Homo sapiens: one gene and its partner. The protein of the gene in region 2 interacts with the protein of the main gene of each other region in a pairwise test. Each region holds a gene or a part of one and is shown on either strand. Other genes may lie near its edges.

Region 1 (6,427 bases), on a different chromosome or scaffold from region 2:
GGCCATATAGGACCAGGTCAACACACATATATATTCCCTAACTTGAATCTCTCTCGGCCAGGCACATTGGCTCACGTCTGTAATCCCAGCACTTTGGGAGGCAGGTGGATCACTTGAGATCAGGAGTTCGAGACCATCCTGGCCAACATGGTGAACCCTTTCTCTACTAAAAATACAAAAATTAGCTGGGCGTGGTGATGCATACCTCTAGTCCCAGCTACTCAGGAGGCTGAGGCAGGAGAATCACTGAAACCCAGGAGGCGGAGGTTGCAGTGAGCTGAGACTGCGCCACTGCACTCCACCCTGGCGAAAGAGCAAGACTCATCTCCAGAAAAAAAAAAAAAAAAAAAAGCCCAGTGTAGTGGTAGGGGCCTCTAATTCCAGCTACTCAGGAGGCTGAGGCACGAGAATCGCTTGAATCCAGGAGGTGGAGGTTGTAGTGGGCCAAGATCACGCCACTGCACTGCAGCCCGGGCGACAGCGAGACTCCATCTCAAAAAAAGAAAAACAATCAGCGATTTTGTGAGAAAAGCCGTTGAGGTCCTCTCAAATCTGCATGTGAGCAAGTAGGTCTACAACAGGCAAACATACTGCTTCCCGACTTCTGAAAAGTCAAGGAATCCTAAGTAATCTAGATGAAAAAGTGACTCCTTGGTTTCTTCACATTCCCCTCCAAGAGCCCAGTGAGCCATCAGCTCCTGGCCAGCAACACACCTGATACAAAATGGGAGAAGTGTATAAATTATTATGTTGATAAGCAAGATAAGTGCCAAAGGGTAGATAAGAGTGAAAGCATTGGGAAGCCTGGCAGAGTGCAGTCAGCAGGTCAGTTCCTGGCGGTTCATTGAGCAGCTTGGCCCAAAGATGTAAGTGAAGTCCCTCCTGGTGGAGGGATGAGAGCAGCTCCAGTTACTCGGCCTTCATGACACAGGAAGTTGAAGGTGGCACAGGCATTGGGCTGCAAAGAAAAGGCCAGCATCAGCCTGTCTAGCGCCAGGCCTGTGCTCCCCGCAGCATGCCCCAGTCCCGGGACTCACCGTGTCCTGCACTTCCACAGCAATGCCCCGCTGCCTCATGGCTTGAAGCACCTGGGACTGCAGCCTCTCGGTCCGGTCTCCAGTCCCCACCACCACGATCTCTAGGGAAGGGTGGGTGTGGCTAGTCTACAGTTCTGTTGAGAGGCTGCAGTGGGGGTCGCCTTCTGGGGCCCAGAACACCTCTGTTCTCCCTCCCCTTCCCCAGTACCTATCCGGGGCTCCAGCAACCAGAAGAGGGAAAAGCTGTCTTCGGTGATGTCCTGGTGGGATCCCACCTGTGCAGGGAGGAGGCACATTTAATACGACAAATCCACGCAGCCTCTCCCCATCTCCATCCACTGCAGGAGGAGACAGAGGAAAGCCAAGTTTGCAGGGACCAAGCAGGGTGAGGGCCTGTGACTCTGGGCCTCAGTTTCCACACTGCGGGCCAGGACTCACGTTCCACTGCACCACCGAGTGCGGGAGCAGAGCGCAGGGGCCGAGCACGCGGTTTCCGTTTATCATGAAGCCGCGGCTGTTGTAGCTGTCGATGTACATTGCCTGAGCGGCCTCGCGTTGCAGCAGAGAGATGCGCGTCCGCTGATACAGCTCGTCATCCGCCGGCGAGAGCCGATGCCCTCGCCGCGGGGCCCTGCGGAGGGAAAGGGTCAGGGGCGCGGGGCCGGGCCGGGCAGCCCGAGAGGCCGGAAGGTGCTGGGCTGGCAGTCGCCGGCCCTAGGGGGCTGGATGGTCGAGGGCGCGGGGTCCAAGCTCACCAGGGAAGCTCAACGGGCGGACAGCGCAGCGAGGGTCGCGCTCGGTACAAGCTACGTAGCGCGAGAGCGGTGGCCATGGCTGACCAACGCGCGGCGAAGTCGTCACCGGCGCCGTTAGTCCCCGGGTTGGGAGGGCCCTGCGGAGCCTGACCCAGCGTGGCTGCAGCGCCCCCTGCGTCCCGGAGGGCACCGCACAGCTCGACCGGCCCAGCAGGCGAGTGTCCTCAGTCTTAGGAGGCCGAGTTCCCCGACCTCCGGCGCAGCTCCAGTGTCAGCACCTGCCGCCCTCCCCGCCCCGGGCCCTTGCCCATAGTCCCGGGGGAGTGGAACACCTGGCAGCGTGGCCACCCTCAGGGCGTTGCCTGGGCCGCAGCCGCGGCCTGGCCCCCGGGCTCTCAGCTATTAAGCCGCGCTCCCGGGGCGGGGCGACCGCCCACCTGGTCGCGTCCCGAACACCTGGCCAGGCGGTGGGTGCCAGACTTCTAGCCCCTAATTCCAGCCTTTGGGGCTTCGGGCACCGTGGGCGGGGCAGCCGGCTCAAGTTTCTCCGGCTAGACGCGGAAGCACGCCCCGCCCTAACCGTCACCCGCGCGACCGTTGGCCTCTCCGCAGCGCGCGGAGAGGGGCGTGGCCGAGCGTGGATTGGCTTCTCGGGTTCTCTAGGGGGCGTGGCCAGGTGGTTTCTCCTTAAAATGGCTCCAAGTCTGCAGGCAGCCAGAGCAAGCGGAAGGGCAAGCTGTGATAGTGTTTGGGTGGCTGTTCGGCTGGCCCAGACCAGGCCGAACCGGACCAGACTTGAAGTAGAAGCGCGTGGAGCATCACCTTGTCCTCGTTCACTCTGCTCGCGTCCTGGGAGTCCCCCGTCCCCCGTCTTGATCCAAGTCAAGGGCCTACTGGCGCGAGAGTCGCTGGCCCCCGCGCGGGGTTTGGGCATCTCGGCACGCCGGCTCTGTCGTGGCCTCAGGGGAACATTGTCGCTTTCGCTACCCGCGGGGCCGGGCGAGCGGGAAGCTCGGCACAGTGGGAGCCTGGTGGTGGGTCTCCTGGGGCCGGTCGCAATGGGTTTCCGGGGGTCCCGCGGCTGCTCTGTGGACCCCTTCGGCCCCTGGTGCTCCGGGCGCTGGCAGCGTCACCGGACAAAGGCCACCGAGCGCGGGGGTGTCCCCGAGGTGGACGCGCGGGTTTACTTCCTCTCCGGCCCCACGGGCGCGCTTCCCTCCTGACGGATTCCGAAGCCCGCCCCACCACCGTCACCGCACCAGTGGCCCAGGCTTCGTGGGACCAACAGGGCTAATCCTGCCCCACGGATCTAATCCGGATCGGGACCCGGTCCCAGGGGAGGCCCCCACCTCCCCTTCTATTGTTCTGTGGCCCAGGTGAGCGTCTTGTTCCCTCTAGACTCCGTTTCACAACCTACTCCCGGGTCTTCCTCCTGGGACTGGGGATGGGCGGGTTCTGATGTGGCCCCAGGGCGAGTGACCTGGGGGCAGGAGCTCCCCCGCCCCCCGCCAACGGCTGGACAGCGGGCAACGGAATCCCAAAAGCAGCTGTTGTCTCCAGAGCATTCCAGCTGCGCTTGGATTTCGTCCCCTGCTCTCCTGCCTGAGCAGCGCCCTGGCCCAGATGGGGTGCCCCTGACCCCCAGACATACTTTACTGAGCTGCTTGGGTCTCAGTTCCTCTCAGTTGCGCCCTCAGGCTGGAGGTGATGGGTGTAGACGTGGGAGAGCCGAGGCTGGTGGCCATCTCTGGAACCCTGGGGAGGATTGGCGAGGGAGGGTGGACCCAGGACCTCTGGGTAGGGCTGCAATGGTAGTGACTCCCCCAGGGCTGCCTCAGCCCGCATCTCGCTAAAGATAGCCCTCTTACTTCCTGGGGAAAAACCACCCCAACCGTCTTCGTGGATGAGAGTATCTGAAGTCCTCAGTTTGACTGAGGGTTCCCAACCCTGCTAAGCAGTTGTCTCCAGGTCATGCACCTTCAGAATGGAAAGCGCTTTGGAATGACACGATCACTCCCGTTGAGTGGGCACCCGAGAAGCCATCGGGAATGTCGTGTCCGCCCAGTGCTCTTTCGGCGCCTCCCAGCAGGGCCTCAGCCCTGGCCCAGAAAGGGGCCTTGCCAAGCTTTTCCTGCCCCTGGGTTTCCCTGCTCTCCGGATTTCCCAACTCTCTCTACTGAGTTAGCTTCTCTATTAAAAGGAATGGGGGTGGGGTGGGGGGTGAGTAAGTTACAGTGAAATGAAGACATTTGGGAACCTTTGTGGGAGAAAGAAAAAGACCTTTCCTATTGGTAGAGGAGCAAGATACTCCAACTGAGGCCTATTTTCTATTATGGTCGCATTATTTGGTTGGCCCGTAAATGGCTGTTGCCTAAAACAGGAAGCTTTAAGGATCGTTGTTAAAGCACACCAGGTTAAAGGAGTCACATTAAAAGCTGGTCATTCTGAGCCGGGCGCGGTGGCTCACGCCTGTAATCCCAGCACTTTGGGAGGCCGAGGCAGGCGGATCACCTGAGGTCGGGAGTTCGAGGCTTGACAAACATGGAGAAACCCCGTCTCTATTAAAAATACAAAAGTAGCCGGGCGTGGTGGCGCGTGCCTGTAATCCCAGCTACTTGGGAGACTGAGGCAGGATAATCACTTGAACCCGGGAGGGGGAGGTTGCGGTGAGCCAAGATCACACCACTGTACTCCAGCCTGGGCAACAGGAGCGAAACTCCGTCTCAAAAAAAAAAAAAAAAAGTCTGGTAATTCTGGAAGCCATCATGATGGTTGTGATTTCTCAGGTATCAAGAGAAGAAAACCGCCAACTGTATCAGAGTGCTTATTTATTGGGCATAAAGACCACCCGGGCTGGGTGCAGTGGCTGATGCCTGTAATCCCAGCACTTTCGGAGGCCGAGGCGGGCAGGTCACGAGGTCAGGAGTTCGAGACCAGCCTGGCCAACATGGCGAAACCCCGTCTCTACTAAAAATACAAAAATTAGCCGGGCGTGGTGGCGGGCGCCCGTAATCCCAGCTACTCGGGAGGCTGAGGAGGAGAATCCTGTGAATCCGGGAGGTGGAGGCTGCAGTGAGCCGAGATCGTGCCACTGCACTCCAGCCTGGGAGACAAGAGCAAGACTCCGTCTCAAACAAACAAAAAAACACCCATATCTCAAACGAGAAAATGCTTGCAAATAACCTGAAACCGCGGAACACTATTCTTTTTAAAACGAGATATTTTAAGTAGGTCGTGAAAGTGGCCTTAATGTTATACTGCCTTATTCCAGTGACGAATATTCATCATGTGTAAAATGGGAGAAATGAAATGTTATTAAAACAAACATGTGAGACTTCGATGAGAAGAGACGGTACCCGGTCTAAGCGCCCACCGGGTCGCGAGGATCCTTTTCCTGGTTAAGGCCTGGGTCACAGCGAAAGAACCCTAGGCCCAGGGAGGGCCCCGAGATTTCAGATCCGGGGCCCGGCTGTGCAGGTGGACCACGCGGAAGGGGCGCTGGGGGCGGTAGGTCGAAAGCAGCCGACAGGGCTACCACTGGCGCACCTGTCCACTTACGGGGACCACCGCCGCATCCCCGCCCCAGCTAGTCGGTCCTTTCCGGAAGTTCCACCTCCCTAAATTTTTTTCCGGTTCCGCTTACTCCTTCCGGTCACCATGGCGACCAGGCGCCTTGGGGTCGGGGAGACGCTGGGGGCCCTCAACGCGGCCCTGGGGCCAGGCGGTCCGGTGTGGATCAAGGAGACGCGCACCCGCCACCTGCGTTCCCGAGACTTTCTGGCACCGCACCGCGCGCTGCAGGCGCGCTTCGATGACGGCCAGGTGGGCGTGAGCCGGGCGGGGCCGTGCGGCCGGGAGATGGGCCCCGTGCCGTGGCTCTTTTACACGCCCGTTCTCCCGCAGGTTCCGGAGCATTTGCTCCATGCCCTCGCCTGCCTGCAGGGCCCCGGTGTGGCCCCGGTGCTGCGCTGCGCGCCGACCCCCGCGGGTCTGTCTCTCCAACTGCAGCGGTCCGCCGTCTTCGAGCGCGTCCTCAGCGCCGTGGCCGCCTATGCCACGCCCGCCTCGCCTGCCTCGCTGGGCCAGCGCGTCTTACTACACTGCCCAGCACTGCGCAGCTCCCCCTGCGCACTCCGCTTGAGCCAGCTGCGTACGGTGCTCGTGGCCGATCACCTGGCGCGAGCCCTGCGCGCTCACGGGTGAGCGGGGCCGCGGGGCCGGAATGGAGAAAGTGGGACTGCCGGGTACCTAGAAAGCGAGCGGCGCCGCCCGTGGGGACTGCGGCTGGAGGTGGGAAGTCGTGGCGAGCTGGACCAGGTGCTCAGACTGAGGCGGCCGCCCTCCCTTCGCAGGGTGTGCGTGCGCCTAGTGCCAGCTGTGCGGGATCCGCACATGCTGACCTTCCTGCAGCAACTGCGGGTGGACTGGCCCGCTGCCTCGGAGAGAGCTTCCTCCCACACCCTGAGGAGCCACGCCCTTGAAGAACTTACCTCTGCTAATGACGGGAGGACACTGTCCCCTGGCATCCTAGGCAGACTGTGTCTGAAGGAGCTGGTGGAAGAACAGGGCCGCACAGCTGGCTATGACCCCAACCTGGACAACTGTCTGGGTAGGACCTGAAGCCTAGCAGGGCCA
Region 2 (7,018 bases):
AAATAATATACTGTTTGATTACTGTAAGTAGAACATCAAATGATAGGACAGAAACCAACCTATGTATCAGCTCTGGAAACAAAGTTTTTAATTAAAATAAACAAAGTTTGCTTTCCAAAGCTTCCTCTTGGTTTGATTTCCATTCATCTGCTAGCTATAATGACTGGTACATTCCTGAATCTGGTTTGTTCTGTTTCCAGGCATATGAGAAAGTTGTGTCCACAGCTATCAGATGGTTGCCGGCATGTGAAAAGGGAAGAAATTTAACTTAGAGTTGGTAAGCAAAATAGCCCCAGACAAGCATTCTTATTTGGTCTCAGGACCCTTTGACAGTGCTAATTTATAGAAGACCCCAAAAAACTTTTATGAGCTAATCAATATTTACCAAATTAAAAGTTGAAATTGAGAATGGTTTACAATATATACTAATTCATTTAAAAATGACTCATTGTATTAACATACTTTATTAAAAAAAAAAACACTACATTTTCCAAAACAAAGCTAACTGAATGAAAGAAGAGTGCAGTTTTACTTTTTTTTTTTTTTTACATCGTTTTAATGACTGGTTTAATAGATATAGTCAAATTCTCATATCTGCTTCTATAATCAATCTATTGCTACATCACATACCATGTAGCTTCTGGAAAACTCCACTGTACATTTGAGAGTGCAAGTAAACAAAGCAACTAGAGTCTTAGTATTATTATAAGAACAATTTTCCCTCAGACACTCTGCAAGAGTCAAAGGACCCCTATGGGTCACTAGATAACACTTGGAACACCGCCGCCCTAAACTAGCCACGAGTGGTTTCAACGTACATTCTATTGTAACACATCATTTTCTCATGCATTTTCATGGATGTCTTCAGATATTAAGTAAACAAAAAAAAATGCTTTGATCCTTAAGTAAAACAAATAACATTGGACAATTTTTGAGTGTTGGAAGGATAAATGGAGAAGAGTAGGTGCCTGGAGATGTGTGGTATTCAGCAAAGTATTTTGTAAGTTGTGGGAAATAGACAATAAGCTATAAGCAAACAGGCAACTGGGTAATTCCTAGCAGTCAGCTGCAACTTCTTTACCTTTGATTCAATGAAGCAAAATGGAATCCCAGTGACAGTAACATTATTACAGAAATACATTGAAACTGTTAGGCTCTGATTTATTTAAGCAAATAATTTGAAGTTTTGGTACTTAAAATTACTGGAAACCAGTTACTCTTAATTACTGGAAACCAGCACTCTGACAATGTTGAGAGGTGCTGTCCTGTGTTATTCAAAGATATAAACTTCTATCTTTCTTTCAAGTGGCTGATGGAGGTAGGGTGTATAGTATTCCATGCATTCAATTCTGCTTTTCATATGCAACTACTGAAAAATGAGAAGTTCACTTTTATTCATATATATATACAAATGGGGATATATTCATATATATATATAAATGGAGATATATATATATTCATATATATATATAAATGGGGATATATATACACACTCACATACACAAATGTGGTTTTTGGGGTTTTTTTGAGACGGAGTCTTGCTCTGTTGCAGTGCAGGCTGGAGTGCAGTGACACGATCTCGGGCAACTTCCGCCTCCCAGGTTCAAGCGATTCTCCTGCCTCAGCCTCCCGAGTAGCTGGGATTACAGGCGCGTGCCACCATGCCCAGCTAATTTTTTTGTGTTTTTAGTAGAGACAGGGTTTCACTGTGTTAGCCACGGTGGTCTTGATCTACTGACCTCGTGATCCGCCCACTTCGGCCTCCTAAAGTCCTGGGATTACAGGCGTGAGCTACTGCCCGGCCATGTGTGTATTCATTCATTCATTCATTCATTTACTCATTCATGTAACACATATTTACAGAGAACCTCTTTAAGTGTGTCAGGCACTATTCCTGGCAGTTGAGATACAAAACAGAACACACATTCCTGGCCTCCTGTGTCTTGCGTCCTAATGTGATGAGAAATATGATGAAGATTAGTAAGTAAAATAAATTATCCATTACACTGTGATAAGTATTAAAAAGTAAAGGAGGAAATATGAAATATTGGGAATGGAAACATCATGACTTAAAATATGCTGACAAGTAGAGGGACTGACTGAAGAGTTGGACATCTGAGCACATATGGAGGGAGCATGATGGGGAAGAGTGTTCTAAGCAGAGGAAACCACAACTGCAAAGACTATGAGGTTGGCAGCTTGTGGAGAGCTTTCTGGGAATACAAAGCTGGGTAAACAGTCTGTGGGGTCAAAGAGGTAATGAGGGGAGGATTTTAAAGCCATCGTTAGGACTTTGGTTTTTACTTGTGTTGGGAAGCCACAGGAGACTTTGAGCAAAGGAGTGGTACGATCTCACTTCTTTTTAAGTAGATTTATTTAGGATTCTGTATTAAGGATAGAGTCAAAAGACTAGTTCCTGGTCTACCGTAACACTATAATCCAAACAAGAGATGATGCAGATTGTAGCGGAGGTGGTAAGTAGTTGGATATACTTTGAAGGAAGAGCCAACAGGTTATATGCCAAATGCATATAAGACATAAAAGAGAGGAGTTAAAGGTGGGTTTGAACAAGGAAAGATGCAACCATTTACTGAAATACAAAGACCTTGGGTATGAGTGAGAAGGGGTTGAACTAGCTGACATCTTACAGTCTGTGCCTGGATTCAAATCTCAGCTGTGTGTGTCTCTCTCTCTGTAAAATGGGAATAATAATAGTGCCTACCTCATAGTTTATTATGAGAATTAAGTGGGTATATATGAATAAAGCACTTAGAGCAACACCTGGCACATTGTTAGTTAATATTAGCATTACCTCTTCAAGCTGGAATCTTCGAGTACATATCAAATTTTAGCTATTCTCTGTTCATGGGCTGTGTAGGATAGAGGGACAAAACTGAGTGGCTAATAAGAAGATAAAGATAGAAAACTAAGCTTAAAGTTAAAGGATATACACTTCAATATTTCTACATGTATGGAACAGTATTGCATACACGCGCAAGCATCACTGAACTAGATGCACCCTTCAAGAGATTGGGTTACATATTGATATATATGAATGAGAACCCTGAAATAAACTGATTTCAGAGGAATAACAGAAAACATATACATTTCTATACCTATAAGGACACTGAAAACTTCCAATCCTGAATCAAACAGTTAATGAAATCCCAAAATGCAACACTAATGCAAATGAGAAGACGCTGTCATAGAATGTTGAAATACATACTCTTCTAAAGATAAAAGGTCTGCTCTTCCACCCTCTTCATTTTCCTACAAATTAGGAAAATTTAATCAGTTCTGAAAAAGGAAATGTACATGCTAAAATGGTGAATTACTGCTAGAGTTCTGATGTTTAAAACCACAGGCTTGCGATCAAAATAACCTCTTTAATTTTAGATTATCATGCAGATTAATTTCTTCAGTTTCTCAGGCACTATTCTGTTTTTTTTAAAAAAAGGGTGGGGTTTCAAAAGAAAACTAATACTCATTTTTTCCCCGATTAAATTGCTCAACCATTAAAAAGGAGAACAAATTGGAAAGTCCTACAGTACTCTCTCCCCTCCGTCCCCCCCCTCCCCATTTTTTTTCTTGAAAGGGAACAAGCAGTACTTTTGCTAAGGGATCTTTAAGCCGAAACTCAGCTAGGCGCCCCAGAGCTTCCTCAGGATAGCAAAGCTGGATTTTTGAGCAGCACCACCTGCTGGTCCTACACACGTTTTACTTCCTCCACCCCAAATCTCTTTCTGTTGGAACTGCACTCTTTCAGAGCCTCTGGGCCCTAATACAAAGCAAGCACACTCTAAAGAAGCCAGAAGAATGCAAGCAGCGAAGTCGCCGCTCCCCACAGGCAAGAGAGTACCGGCAGACAGCGGCGCGAGACAGGGGCAGAACGATGAGGCGCCGGAGTTAGCTCGCCGGTGCGGGTGCGGGTGCGCGGCGCGTCGCGGCCCCTCCTCCGCGACGCGCCGGGTGGTCACGTGACGGCCGCGCGCGTTCCCGGCAGCTGCGGGCTCCGAGGCCAGAGAGAAAAGACTGCGAGGTGGCCGCAGCTGTGGCCGGAGAGGTGGGAGTCGGAGCGAGGCCCTCTCGGGGGAGCAGGGTGAACGCCGGCCACTCTAGGATCCTCACTCGGGGAGAGGAGGCATAGCTCGCGGTGTCACCTCCAGCCGCAACGTACTCCGGGTCGGCCTTGCGCTCGGGGCCTGAGAGGGGCGGCGGCGGGGTCAGGGGCCGGTACGTAGATGGACGCCCTTGGGCTGGCGCGGCCCCGGCTGTCCGCGCAGAGGCGGGATGGGACAGTTCAGCCCTTTCCGCCACCCCCGCCTTGGCTGCTGGGGCAGGCAAGACGACCGTGACAGCCCCTGCGCTGCCCGAGGGCGCCGCAGCCCCTGCCCTGGGTGACGGCCGGAGCTGGTCTCGGTCCGGGTGCGAGGGGCGGAGCAGCGGCCATTACTGCGCAGCCTCTTCCGCCTGAGCCCGCTTCGCTGCCTCGGGTGGCAGGCGGGTCCCTCTCCTCCCCTCTGGGCCGTGGTTTTAGGCCTTTACCCGGGGACCTTCTGGCCTCGAGGTGTAGGGGCGGCGATGGTTTTTCGGCGGTAGCCTGCTCCATGTTTTCCCGTGTGGGGTCAGACAGTTTGGGCCTTGGGTCAGATCGAAGCCAGGGCGTACAGTCTGCATTTTTGCCTTTTCCCGGAGTGTCTCTGGCTGCTGCTTTCTCTTCTCTCGCTCTTCCTCCTTTTTTTTCTCCTGCTCAGTGTCTCGGTCTTGCCTAAAACGAAGAGAGCAATCCCTGCACCTTGTCCTAGTGAAGCCCAGCGCTGCATATTCTTAGTTGTTTTTGACGGCTGTTGAAGCATCGGAACAATTAAGAGATCTCAGAATATCCCTTGAGCCTCCAAACCCTCTGCATCTTAAAAGCTGAGGCTGTTGCTTTGTTCTGATTGTTGGGTGGGGAGTTCTCTTCCTACCCTCCATCCCGTCTGAAGGAGTGTGGGTCTTCCATTGTTGTCGCTATTTATTTTGCTAAGGCTTCTAAAGAATGTAAAATTGTTTTAAGAGTGGAGACGGAACCGTCCTCTCCACAGGTAAAACCTACAGGACTGTAAGTTTACACACACATCCTGGCAACTAGAATCTTTTCTCGTTAATCATATTGGTATATGTTTTAATTTATTTTCTCTAAGTGCCATTTTAGTGAGCACTTATTTCTCAAGTTTTGAACATTTTGTTTAATATTTTTGTAATATCGAAACAGTGTAGAACTGAGGAGAGAAGAAAGCCCAAAGATGATAGGGTACGCTTTGTTCTTTGTATGATTGGCATTTCAGGTAGTGGGCACATCCCCCCCACCTCGTGTGTGTACTTTTCAAATGGGATGTGAACGTATAATATTGGCATTCAATCCAGTATATAATTATAGAATTTGGAAGACTTAGGACATTTTAGTCAGTGAATCTATATTTAGACTTTTCAAAGACATGGCACGTAAGGACACGTGGAGAAAATGTCCCACACAGATAACAGGATTTGTGATTTTGGCTTTGCTGTTTTATGATTAGCAAATATTGTTTGTATAGAGTGTCTGGGTGCCCTAAAAACACATGAAAATAGGTCAACTAAATCTCGTTTTAAAGAGAAAACCGGAAGAGTGAACACCACTCTAAAAATAGATTTTGGATGTGTTTGTTTTGGTGCCTTGTATATCTTAAAGTGGAGGATGTTGTTCAGCCCAATCTTTCATTTAGAATTTATGTCTCAAATGAGCCAGTGTATCATGTGGGCAGACTGGAAATACATTTAAATATTTTTTTTCTTCGCTGGTTGTTCAGAACTTGGTAGAATTATAATTATCAGGAAAACTCTCTCCAAATAGCTGGTCTTTTAGACAAGAGAAGAAAAAAGAAATAACTTCTTTTAAAAGGAGATGTCAACTTACAAAGTGTTTTGTTTCAGTCTCCACCAACCTAACTTGTCAGAGGAAAGGAACAGACTTTTTTTTTTAAAGGATCCAAAACGATATTTTGAGTCAAAAGAAGAAAAGGATATTAAATCTTTTGTTTTCACAATATCGATCTTTTTAAAGAATATTATTTTATATGTTAACCATATACTACCAGGAAACATCTAACAGCACTGACAGTTGGGAATTCGAATGCGTATTTTTCTCCCGTGTTAGTAATAGAAGGTACTGAGCCTTTTCCATTCTCTTGGTTGCCTTGTGCCTGAGGAATCTGAATTTGTGAAACAACATCTTTGTGGATATAGAAACTAATTTATGTAACACTTGGCTACAACCACCTGTGCTTACTTACGGACTATCTTTAGTTTTCATGGCGTGTTACCTTTTGGGTTAATTCAAATCCAAAATGTTGTTAACGGACTGCTAATTAAAGCATTTAGAACTTAGAATTACAGAATTATAGAGTAGGATGAGATAACAAAAGACTGGGGGTTATGACTTGACCAAGGTCACACAGATAATTTGCCAAAGAGCTTTCTTATTTATGAAATGGTTGCTGGCTAAGAAACATCTGTGTGTGATATGATTAAAAGACAATATTCGTTCACTTTTACATCTCATGTTTTGAAATAAAATGCAAAGCTCACTTTTTTGTTGTTTTGAGAAAAATTAAAGGGTTTAATGGGCTAGTATAAAGATTGTGAAGGCAGTAAGTAGACTGCCACATAGTAACGTCTTAAAGGGAAATAATTCTTTAAAGTATCAGACCCCATTTAGTTGAAATGAGTTTTGTCTGAAGTTTCCAAGTATGACCTATGCTTTTTCTTAGCTAATTTTTAGCAGGAGATGATGAGGGCTAAAAATTGAGACATTAGGGCATTTAGTTACATCTCTCAATTTGTGACTGGTTTATAAAAAATACTAAGATGTGTCTGCTAACTCACACCTGATTTATCTACTCCTTTTATGTATATATAATTTTTTTTGAGTTGTGTACCAAAAGTTGGAACATTTCAAGTATTTTTTCTTTCTGTCACTGAGTGATTTCATGTAGAACAT

The links.
Region 1: the proteins of RNF146 (region 2) and NDUFAF3 interact in binary tests that used the Homo sapiens proteins (3 or more experiments, as listed by UniProt).

The regions. Positions count from the first base shown.
Region 1 is NC_000003.12:49,017,587-49,024,013, reverse strand, and holds NDUFAF3 (NADH dehydrogenase [ubiquinone] 1 alpha subcomplex assembly factor 3 isoform a precursor), read right to left. Parts: upstream 1,894-6,427; 5' UTR 1,870-1,893; coding exon 1,793-1,869; intron 1,669-1,792; coding exon 1,476-1,668; intron 1,313-1,475; coding exon 1,246-1,312; intron 1,139-1,245; coding exon 1,038-1,138; intron 959-1,037; coding exon 842-958; 3' UTR 519-841; downstream 1-518. Other genes in the region: DALRD3 (DALR anticodon-binding domain-containing protein 3), read left to right, coding at 5,450-5,614, 5,696-5,991, 6,145-6,401. UniProt on the Homo sapiens protein: Essential factor for the assembly of mitochondrial NADH:ubiquinone oxidoreductase complex (complex I).
Region 2 is NC_000006.12:127,262,863-127,269,880, forward strand, and holds the start of RNF146 (E3 ubiquitin-protein ligase RNF146), read left to right. Parts: upstream 1-4,001; 5' UTR 4,002-4,063; exon of another isoform or gene 4,064-4,233; intron 4,234-7,018. UniProt on the Homo sapiens protein: E3 ubiquitin-protein ligase that specifically binds poly-ADP-ribosylated (PARsylated) proteins and mediates their ubiquitination and subsequent degradation. May regulate many important biological processes, such as cell survival and DNA damage response.